Homo sapiens: one gene and its partners. The protein of the gene in region 3 interacts with the protein of the main gene of each other region in a pairwise test. Each region holds a gene or a part of one and is shown on either strand. Other genes may lie near its edges.

What was found.
Region 1: the proteins of CTIF (region 3) and SPG21 interact in binary tests that used the Homo sapiens proteins (3 or more experiments, as listed by UniProt).
Region 2: the proteins of CTIF (region 3) and ATPAF2 interact in binary tests that used the Homo sapiens proteins (3 or more experiments, as listed by UniProt).

What each region holds. Positions count from the first base shown.
Region 1 is NC_000015.10:64,965,899-64,969,549, forward strand, and holds part of SPG21 (maspardin), read right to left. Parts: intron 3,465-3,651; coding exon 3,357-3,464; intron 1-3,356. UniProt on the Homo sapiens protein: May play a role as a negative regulatory factor in CD4-dependent T-cell activation.
Region 2 is NC_000017.11:18,029,116-18,032,766, forward strand, and holds part of ATPAF2 (ATP synthase mitochondrial F1 complex assembly factor 2), read right to left. Parts: intron 1-3,651. UniProt on the Homo sapiens protein: Plays a role in the assembly of the F1 component of the mitochondrial ATP synthase (ATPase).
Region 3 is NC_000018.10:48,751,921-48,755,571, forward strand, and holds part of CTIF (CBP80/20-dependent translation initiation factor), read left to right. Parts: intron 1-3,651. UniProt on the Homo sapiens protein: Specifically required for the pioneer round of mRNA translation mediated by the cap-binding complex (CBC), that takes place during or right after mRNA export via the nuclear pore complex (NPC).

The DNA of each region.
Region 1 (3,651 bases), on a different chromosome or scaffold from region 3:
ACCATGTTGGCCAGGCTGGTCTCAAACTCCTGACCTCAGGTGATCTGCCCACCTCGGCCTCCCAAAGTGCTGGGATTACAGGCGTGAGCCACCAAGCCCGGCTGGGGTCGGGGGAAATTCTACCATGAATTTCCTTTTTCCTCAAATATAGCTAAGTAGATTAACAGAATATTAATAGAGAACAATCATTGCAAATGTCAATAAGTTTCAAAAAGATCACGAAGCCCCAAAAGAACTTTTTACTTTTATCATTAATTTAAAGCAATAAACTAAGTCATTTAGGCTCAGTGAAAAAAATTCCAAAAAAATGTAGAGTACAAGCTATTCTTTCTTGGGGAAACCAGTTTGCAGCATATGATTCTAGACATCCTTCAATACCCATACACATTTACGTTTTTACATGCAACAAAATTTTTCAAAAAGTAAAATAAGCAAAAAAAATTGTATACTAAATATACCATACCAAATCTGTATGTTTAAGTGCATCTCCAACTAAAACTTACAGGCTGTTTTCAGTGACCATGAACCCAGGCAGTGAGCACAGCTTTGAAAGAAGGGCAGGCAGAGCAAATGTCCTGTGAGGACCATTGAAAAGCTTGTTCTATGTTATGGCAAATGTCAGAATGCAGCGATTATGGCAGAGGATGATAAGAAGTTGTTTACACGCTTATAATGAATAATTTCCCAACAAAAACCAATTATTAAAAATACCATATTATGGCCAGGTGCGGTGGCTCACACCTGTAATCCCAGCACTTTGGGAGGCTGAGGCGGGCAGATCATGAGGTCAGGAGATCGAGACCATCCTGGCTAACATGGTGAAACCCTGCCTCTACTAAAAATACAAAAAATTAGCTGGGCGTGGTGGTGGGTGCCTGTAGTCCCAGCTACTTGGGAGGCTGAGGCAGGAGAATGGCGTCAACCCAGGAGGCGGAGCTTGCAGTGAGCCAAGATCGCGCCACTGCACTCCAGCCTAGGCAACTGAGTGAGACTTTGTCTCAAAAAAACAAAAACAAAAACAAAAACAAAAAACCATATTATTTGAATTTAGGAACAAATCCATTTATAAGGCAAAATAATCATATGATTTTTTTTTAAGTAAATTGAAACCATAGTGAGATACCAATTCATATCCATTAGGATAAGTATCAACCAAAAAACCAGAAATAAGGGTCCAGGATATAGAGAAACTGGAATCTTTGTGCATTGTTGGTGGGAACATGAAATGGTATAGCCACTGTGGAAGACAGTATGGTGGTACTTCAAAAAGTGTGATTCTACTTCAAACGATATGTCCAAAAGAATTAAAAGTAGGATACATCTACTATGTACCCATAAAAATAAAAAACAAAAAATTATTTTTAAAAAATAATTTAAAAATAAATAAAAAAAAATTAAAAGCAGGAACTCAAACAAATATACATATATTTTTTGACAGGTTCTCACTCTGTTGCCCAGGCTGGAACGCAGTGGCATGATCATGGCTCACCCCAGGCTCAGGTGATCCTCCCACCTCAACCTCCCAAGTAGCTGGGATCACAGGGATGTGGCACCATGTCCAGCTAATTTTCCTTTTTTTTTTTTTCTTTTTTTTGAGACGAAGTCTCACTCTATTGGCAGGCTGGAATGCAGTGGTGCGATCTCAGCTCACTGCAACCTCCACCGCCCAGATTCAAGCAATTCTCCTGCCTCAGCCTCCCGAATAGCTGGGACTACAGGTGTGTGCCACCATGCCCGGCTAATTTTTGTATTTTCAGTAGAGACGGGTTTCACCACGTTGGCCAGGATGGTCTCGATCTCTTGACCTCATGATCCACCCGCCTTGGCCTCCCAAAGTTCTGGGATTACAGGGGTGAGCCACCGCGCCCGGCCTAATTTTCTTTATTAGTAGTAGAGACAGGGTCTCCTGTATTGCCCAGACTGGTCTCGAATTCCTGGGCTCAAGCAATCCTCTTGAGTCAGCCTCCCAAAGTGCTGGGATTGCAGGAATGAGCCACTGTGCCCTGCCCAAACATATACTTTTACACCAATGTTCATAGAAGCACTATTCACAATTGCCAAAAGCTGAACACAACCCAAGTGACCACTGACGGATGAATGGATAAACAAAATGTGGTATAAACCAACATTGGTTTTATTGGTAGATATTATTCAGCTTTAAAAAGAAATAGGCTGGGCGTGGTGGCTCATGCCTGTCATAGCACTTTGGGAGGCCCAGGCAGGCAGACAGCTTGAGTCCCAGAGTTTGAGTCCAGCATGGGCAACATGGTGAAACCCCATCTCTACAAAAAATTAGCCGAACGTAGTGGTGTGAGCCTGTGGTCCAAGCTACTAAGGAGGCTGAGGAGGGAGGATTGTTTGGGCCCGGGAGGCAGAGGTTGCAGTGAGCTGAGATTGCACCACTGCACTCCAGCCTGGGGAACAGAGTGAGACCCTGTTTCCAAAAAAAAAAAAAAAAAAAGAAAGAAATGACATTCTGACACATGTATAACATTTCAAGATAAGTCTTGTGAAACATTATGCTAAGTGAAATGGCCACACAAAAGGATAAATGTTGTATGATTCTACTTATATGAGGTTCTAGAATAGGTAAATTTTTATAGACAGAAAATAAAACCGTTGATTATCAGAGGCCGGGGGAAGAAAGGGAACAGGAGTTATTGTTTAATGGGTATGCAATTTCTTCTTGGAATGATGAAAATGTTGTGAAAATGGTGATGGTTGCCGAACTGTGAATATACTTAATGCCACTGAACTATGCACTTAAAAATGGTTAAAATGGCATATTTTAAATGTACATTTTACCACAATAAAAAAATAAGCAAGCTTTTGTGGTAATTAAACTATGGAATTCTTGATTCTCTACCCTTGTTACCCTTGTGAAGCACCTTCTCTTTGCTGCCCATATATGTGCAATATATGGTGCAATATCTATTGATGAGAACAGCAAAAATACATCAAATGGGTAGACTCCCTTGTTTAAATTTATTTTGATTCATTTTTATTTTTATTTTTTTTTAATAAATACAGACAGGGTCTCACTATGTTGCCCAGGCTGGTCCTGAACTCTTGGACTCAAGCAATCCTCCTGCCTCAGCCTCCCAAAGCGCTGGGATTACAGGCATAAGCCACTGTGCTCGGCCTATTTTGATTTCAATGGTGTTATTCCTGCCAGAAAGAAATCCAAGATAAGCAATAAACAGATTATTTTGGAATTGAGAAAGCTGGAGGGTAAAAACAAAAGCCAAGGCAGCATTTGAAGAGGTACATTGAAAGTTATCAAATAGTTTTATAGGAGATCTTGACATACACATTTTAAAAAGTAAAGCAGCTATTTTACTTAAAAGGAAGCTTACATCCATAATAGTTACAGGTATGTCCCGAATTTTATGAGGTTCCACATAAGAATTTTGACAATTCAAGGTAAGTCTTGAAGCCAGTTCACTCTGACCCAAACTTTCTAGCTGCAGGAAGAAACACAGGTAAAGTTTTTGAAATAATTTTGTTTTTCACATTTACATTAAATCCACAGACAACATTTGTGCTTATAAAGGTGGTATCATCTGTGGTGGGGCCAGAAAAGTCATCAGTGAGGAACCACAACTTAGGTGAGAGACCATGAACTGGGCTTCTCAGGAGGTTGTGGCATTT
Region 2 (3,651 bases), on a different chromosome or scaffold from region 3:
TACATCGGCAGGATACAGAGCTCCCAAGGGCATTTCCCATCCCCTCTCTCCAATTAATTAACCTAATTAACCAGCTTGCTTGTGTATCCAACAGGAACTCCAAACATTTCCTTCAAGAATGGGAAAATCTATGTCCTTTGTTTTCTTTTGAAAATAACTTGAATAAAATCTTACATGAAACAGTCTCCTTCTTTTACCCTGGAGGGATTAACAACCAAGAGCACTTCTAAGGAATTATGCAGATTCCCTCAACTGATAACAAAGAAGTCACATTTTGGAAGCTATAAGCTATAACTCAGTCTCTCACATCTGTGACAAACACAAAACTTTCATTCATTCATTCGTTTGTTCACTCGTTCATGTGTTCACTGAGTTCTCAAAGTCTTTGGAGACCCTAACTGAAGTTATTTATTGGAAATAATGATGCAGCATGTGGAAGAAAAAAGAGTAAATCATTTGCTTTATTTATTTATTTTATTATTATTTTTTTTTTGAAATGGCGTCTCACTCTCTTGCCCAGGCTGGAGTGTAGTGGTGCAATCTCAGCTCACTGAAACCTCCACCTCCTGGGTTCAAGCGACTCTCCTGCCTCAGTCCCCTGAGTAGCTGGGATTACAGGCATGCGCCAACACACCAGGCTAATTTTTGAATTTTTAGTAGAGGCAGAGTTTTGCCATGCCAGCCAGGTTGGTCTCGAACTCCTGACCTCAAGTGATCCAACCCGTGAGCCACCATGCCCGGCCAAATAGTTTGCCTTTAACGCTAAAAAAAAAAAAAAAAAAAAAAAAAGGCTGGTCGCAGTGGCTCATGCCTATAATCCTAGCACTTTGGGAGGCCAAGGTGGGAAGACTGCTTGAGGCCAGGAGTTCAAGACCCAAGCTGGGCAACATGAGACCCCATCTCTACAAAAAATACAAAAATGAGGCCGGGCGCAGTGGCTCACGCCTGTAATCCCAGCACTTTGGGAGGCGGAGGCGGGTGGATCACCTGAGGTCAGGAGTTCGAGACCAGCCTGGTCAATGTGGTGAAACCCCATCTCTACTAAAAATACAAAAATTAGCCAGGTGTGGTGGCACATGCCTGTAGTCCCAGCTACTCGGGAGGCTGAGGCAGGAGAATCGCTTGAACCCGGGAGGCAGAGGCTGCAGTGAGCTGAGATCACGCCACTGCACTCCAGCCTGGGTGGCAGAGCAAGACTCCATCTCAAAAAAAAAAAAAAAAAAAAAAAGAAAAATTAAAAATTAGCTAGGCATGGTGGCACATGCCTGTAGTCCCCAGCTACTAGGAAGGCTGAAGCAGGAAGATTGCTTGAGCCCAGGAGGCTGAGGCTTCAGGTGAGCTGTGATGGCACCACTGCACTCCAGCCTGGGCAACAGAACAAGACCCTGTCTCTTGGGGAAAAAAAAAAAAAAAAAAAAAACAAGCTTAAGTTAAAATTTCATTAATTCAAATAGACCATGAAAATTCAGGAGAAATTAGTATGTGTGCATGGACAGGGAAGGGTAATGGAGAAGTGGGCAACTGGTTTTACTCCAAATATTTTTTTTCTTTTTCTTTTTTTTTTTTTTTTGAGATGGAGTCTCACTCTGTTGCCCACGCTGGAGTGCAGTAGCGCGATCTCAGCTCACTGCAAGCTCCACCTCCCAGGTTCACGCCATTCTCCTGCCTCAGCCTCCTGAGTAGCTGCGACTACAGGCGCCGCCACCACGCCTGGCTTTTTTTTTTTTTTTTTTTTTTTTAGTAGAGACGGGGTTTCACCGTGTTAGCCAGGATGGTCTTGATCTCCTGACCTCGTGATCCACCTGCCTTGGCCTCCCAAAGTGCTGGGATTGCAGGCGTGAGCCACCGCGCCTGGCCTTTTTTTTTTTTTTTTTTGAGATGGAGTCTCACTTTGTCGCCCAGGCTGTAGTGCAGTGGCGCGATCTCGGTTCACTGCAAGTTCTGCCTCCTCGGTTCACACCATTCTCCTGCCTCAGCCTCCCGAGTACCTGGGACTACAGGTGCCTGCCACCACGCCTGGCTAATTTTTTGCATTTTGTTTAGTAGAGGCGGGGTTTCACCATGTTAGCCAGGATGGTCTCGATCTCCTGACCTCGTGATCCGCCCACCTCAGCCTCCCAAAGTGCTGGGATTACAGGCGTGAGCCACTGCGCCCAGCCTACTCCAAATATTTTTATGTTTTCCCATCATATCAGTTTTCTATAAATCTCATTTGCTATCACTAATACTTACAGACAGAGGGCCCAAAATTGCATTCCACATTTGCACTTACTAAACTAAGGCCCAAATTGTTTTCCCACAAAAATATGTGTGTGTCTACCATGTGTCTTGGCACTTGGGATACAAGAGTGAATAAAATAGACAGAGTTTAAAGTGTTTTTTTAGGCCAGGCGCGGTGGTCACGCCTGTAATCCCAGCACTTTGGGGGGCTGAGGCGGGCGGATCACGAGGTCAGGAGATTGAGACCATCCTGGCTAACACAGTGAAACCCCATCTCTACTAAAAATACAAAAAATTAGCCGGGCGTGGTGGCGGGCGCCTGTAGTCCCAGCTACTTGGGAGGCTGAGGCAGGAGAATGGCGTGAACCCGGGAGGTGGAGCTTGCAGTGAGCTGAGATCGCACCACTGCACTCCAGCCTGGGTGACAAAGCAAGACTCCATCTCAAAAAAAAGAAAATAAAGTGTTTTTTTAGGATCAGATCTGTCCACCAAGATGATGTTGTCTTACTATGGCACCTTCATCTGAAATCACAACACTGATTATCTCATACGTTTGACACTAAAATTAGAAGTTTACAGCACCCTACTGCTTTTAAATTTCTCTACATGCTGTCCTGGTCATATCCAAATGGCAGGCTAGACATGGGTCTGGAGGCCTCCTTTCCTCTCTCAGGTCTGGAGTGAGGTAGACCATGTCCTTTGTGTTTTCCAATGCAACAGGCTGGGCTGCATGTATAAAAGCCAGGCCAGGCAGGAAGTTGGGAAGGGCTCTGAAAGCTCTGACTCAACACTGGGGAAAGGGTCTTCCCATGTCAGCAGGAAGAGCCAGCAGAGTGTACAAATGTACAAGAGTGAGCACTCTAGCATACTTCCAGGCCCGGTCTGGGAAGTGAACCCAAGAGACCTGGGGCAGACGAACAGACTCAAGGCAGGAACTGCCAGCACAGGGCTGAACCTTCAAAAGCTCCTGGGACAGCCAGGTTTCCCAAGAGGGAAGTCTTTTTTCTGTTTTGTTGGCCAGGCTCACTTCTGTAACTGAATAAGAAAAAACTAGATGGGAGTGGGATAGATGGAGGGCAGGGAAGAAGCCACCAAAAATTTCTCCAAGCAGAAGAAAACCATGCAGAAAATGAGACGGCAGAAGGGCAAAAGAAGCCCAGGGGCCGCCAGGCCTCAGATTAGAAGGCAGGTGCACATAGATGTGTTTTAGCCAGGGGCTCTCCTGAATGACCCACTGACACTTGGAGGGGCAAACGTGTCTTGGAACAAGCTTTGGTGAGTACTGATCATGTTCCAGGACATACAAGTCCTGGGGATGGGACATGTGCAAAGCTCATCTCTGCACTCTCCAGCCATTTACTGTCTAGTAGGAATACAGACACTAAACCAGGCAAACAATAAGGTGACTTCTGTGATGGGGCAGGCACGTGG
Region 3 (3,651 bases):
CAGCCTTTCTCTGCATCATTTATTATTCATTCATTCATTCATTCATTCATTCATTCATTCATTCTACAGTTAGTGAGAAAAGTCTTTGCCTGTAGGGTGCAGAGGTACCAATCAGACCTTTCATCTATTCCAGAGCATCGTTTGGCGAGGTAAACATCTGATTTCTAAAGCTTTTAGTCCATGCAGTGAGCTACCACACTTCTTACATGAACTTTTGCCTAGGCTGGCAAAGACCTCAATCTTGAATTGTTTTCTACCCAACTCTGAGCAAAGAGAGCCACAAAATCTATTGGAGTGGGGGAGTCTGCAGCTTGGCTGGCCGCCCACGGTGGCAGGAGTGTTTCTGATGCATGCTGGCCCTCTCCTCTCAGCGTTGTTAGGAGGGAGTGCTCAGGAAGTAGCTGGCCCAGTGCTGCTGTTGCCGCCATCATGATAATGATGGCTCTGGCAATTACAGGGCCCGTGTGTTGCCTAAGCTTTGTAGCGATGCCCCCAGTTCTCCAAAGAGCACTGAGATCTCCAATAAGTAATTGTTAAATCCAGTCATATGGCGTGTTACAGCAAAAACACAAATCTGAGTTCCAGTGAGGGCTTTGCCACTAACTAGCGGGGCGACCCTAGAAGGACAAAGCAACCTCTCTGGACCTTGGTTTTCTCATCCGTCATGCTGTGACTCATGTAATCCTTACAACTGCCCCTCAGGTGGGGACTGGCACATCTGGAAACAGAGACACAGAGAGGTGAGATCACCCAGCCCATGCAACTGTGAGTGGCACAGTGCCAGGCTCTGTGCAGGCTGCCATACCCCAGACAGACCTGGCAAGGAGTGTCCTGCGGGGGACACCCATCATCCGAATCAGCCCTGCGCGCACCATGGGTGCTCCGTTAGTATAGGTCACTGTGATCCTTGTCTCTGAGTGTTCATCAGCCAATACCATGATGTCCCTTGGTTGACTCCCTCATGAGGGAAGAAAACCTCCCCTCCCTTATACTTTTCCTTTTTAAGCTTCCCCATCATTCTGCAAACTGGGGTGGGTGTGTGTGGCGACTTTTGTTCCTGGGTCCTATATGCCATCGCTCGACTAAGCAGCCCCTGAGCTGCAGAGAAATTGTTGGTGCCTGTGCCTCCGAGCCTCACCGCAACCCTTGCGTTGTCCCAGGTGACTGGGCCAGGGCAGGCAGAGCTCACTCAGGGCATGTGTAGGTGGGCAGGAGTGGAGGTGCCTACGCTGGTAATAAGCAGTCATCACTTTTCCTGAAGGCAAGAAATATGAGCCCATGCATAGTTTTAAAACCACTTGCCCTAGGAATTTTGCTTTCAGAAATTTTTAAGCAGACCTACAAATTATGTGGTAAAATGTCCGACATGGAGAGAACCATAATAAGTCAGTGGCACTCAGAATATCTAGTTGGGAACGATTATGAAATAAAAAACGAACAGAGGGACATTTGTCTCCATTTGGACTGCTGTTAAAACCATTTTTTTAAACAAAATTTGAAGTTATTCTCCCTACACCCACCTCCCAAAATGCAGCTGTGGTGTTCCGAGAACATTTTTGTCTTTTTGTATAAAAGAGAGCAGTCTTAGAGTAAAACAAGACATCTGATTTCAGAACCCAAAGAATAAAGAATAAACTAAATGAACGATGGAAAAAGCATAAACCGACAATTTCCATTCTCCAAAAAAAAAAAGCATTATTTTCCTAACAGCAGGTGTTGCCAGTAGCACAAATGGAATATTAATCTTATCTCCTGTGCTGTTCTTCCTCACCCGAAGAAGACTTCCCCAGAAATAAAGAGGCAGAGAGTTGGGTTTTTGCCCTTCTTACTTGCAGGGCTGCAAAACTGGGTGTCCAGTATGTTTCCCAACCCAGGACCCACATGTCCATGTGTCTGAGACCAAGTGCAGCCTCCTTGCCGGGTTGCTGGGAGCAAAAGCGGCTCATCCCTGGCCCAGCCAAACCCCAAACCCGCAGGTTTCGTGGGGAGCAGCCAGCTGGCCCCTGAATGAAGGTATCGACGAAACCCAGCGCCAGCAAATACAGAAGAGAGAGGAGCTGGTTTTGGCTGGCCCAGCCAACGACCGCTGACAAATATTTGTGAATGGCCAGAGCAGGGAAGCCTAGGTCTCCATTGCTGGGGAACGAGGCCTAACTCCAAGTCTGTTCCAGTGCCCTTAGCAGCCCTCTTGGCTCCTTCTCAGGCAAAGAATTTGGACCTCATGCAGTTATCACCACCGAGGTCTCAGTGGCCATTCAGCCCTTTGTCTCCATTACTACAGGTCACTGCGGTCCTTGTCCCTGAGTGTTCATCAGCCAAGGAGGCTGTGTCTAAAGGCGAATGGGAGACAGATGGGAGGTGGCTGCAAGGTGCTGTGATTAGTTGACAGGCTTAGCTCACTCCTGGAGCCCCTGGCAGGCCCTCTGCTGTAGGAGTGCACCTCACGGAGCCTCGGTTGTCTTATCTGTCGAATGGAAAGAAAGGTTCTTGGCCTGCCTGCACACAGAGGCCAGTCCCAGCAATCACTCACCCTGAGAACTAAGCAAGGCCTTGTGCAGGAAGAAGGAAAAGGGAGGACAGAGGGACAGTCTTAGTGCCTCTTCCTCCAGTGGCATCTGGGTTCTTCCCTGCCCTCCCAGGGCTCACCCAGCTGATTCCATCTGCCATTTAGCTCCATATCAAGACCTCCTTATTTTGAACCTGTTAGTCTTTCCTACCCAATTAGGAGGGAACACTTGAGGTGGACTCCCTGGCTTCCCTCCCACCTACGGATGGCTTTCCACATGTGCAAAGGAGCCGCCGCCCAGCAAGGGTGAGCCTGAGAACGCCCACTAATGCCAAGTGGCCTGGGGCATTCTTGGCCATTGCTATATTGTCAGGGCTGGCTGGCTCCAAGCTCTTTCGAACCAGAAAGACATGGAATTCCAGGTCCCTCCAGATTTCCAGGAATGAACAGCAGAAGCCCTGCAGGAGCCAGCTGATTTCTTTCTGGAGCCCCTGACCACTAGCCATATAGCAATTACTTCCTTCCCCCTCCAGGTAGATAGAAGTTGTTTTCTTTTCTGGGGGTGGAGGAGTGCACTGGGTAGAGAGAGGGAAATCCCTGTATGGCAAGTGGGAAACCAGGCAGTTTCAAGACGGATGTTGGGAAGGGCTTGGTCAACCATCCTTTGGGGACATTTCTTGGGCCATAGCTGCAGGCGCCACAAAAATTCTAAATAAGGATGACGAAAGTTGTGAGAATCAATTATTATCTGCCAGGGAATTTCCAAGGTTCCTCTCTGGGCTTAAAAATAACTCACATTGAAAGAACAAAGAGAATGGAAGGAGCAATTAGTTGAAAGTAACTGAGAAGTTAAAGGAGGGAGAATTCACAAAAAGTCACAGGCACGAGGCACCCTGGAGAGTGGTCTGTGGGCCACAGTTTCTTCTGGGCTTTCCAATGGGGGTTGCCTTACACTCTGCAGAATGAGGGCTGCAGCCCTCCCCGCTGACTCAGGCATTTGGGGCTGGGCTGGGCTGGGTAGTCGGAAGGCCAGTTGGTGGTAGAATCACTGGGAGGAACCTGACTCAAGGGCCCCACTTTTCTCATGGGGCCCAACTCTTCTCCAGGTGCTGGTGCTGATAGCTCCTACCTGCCATGGGGAGTGA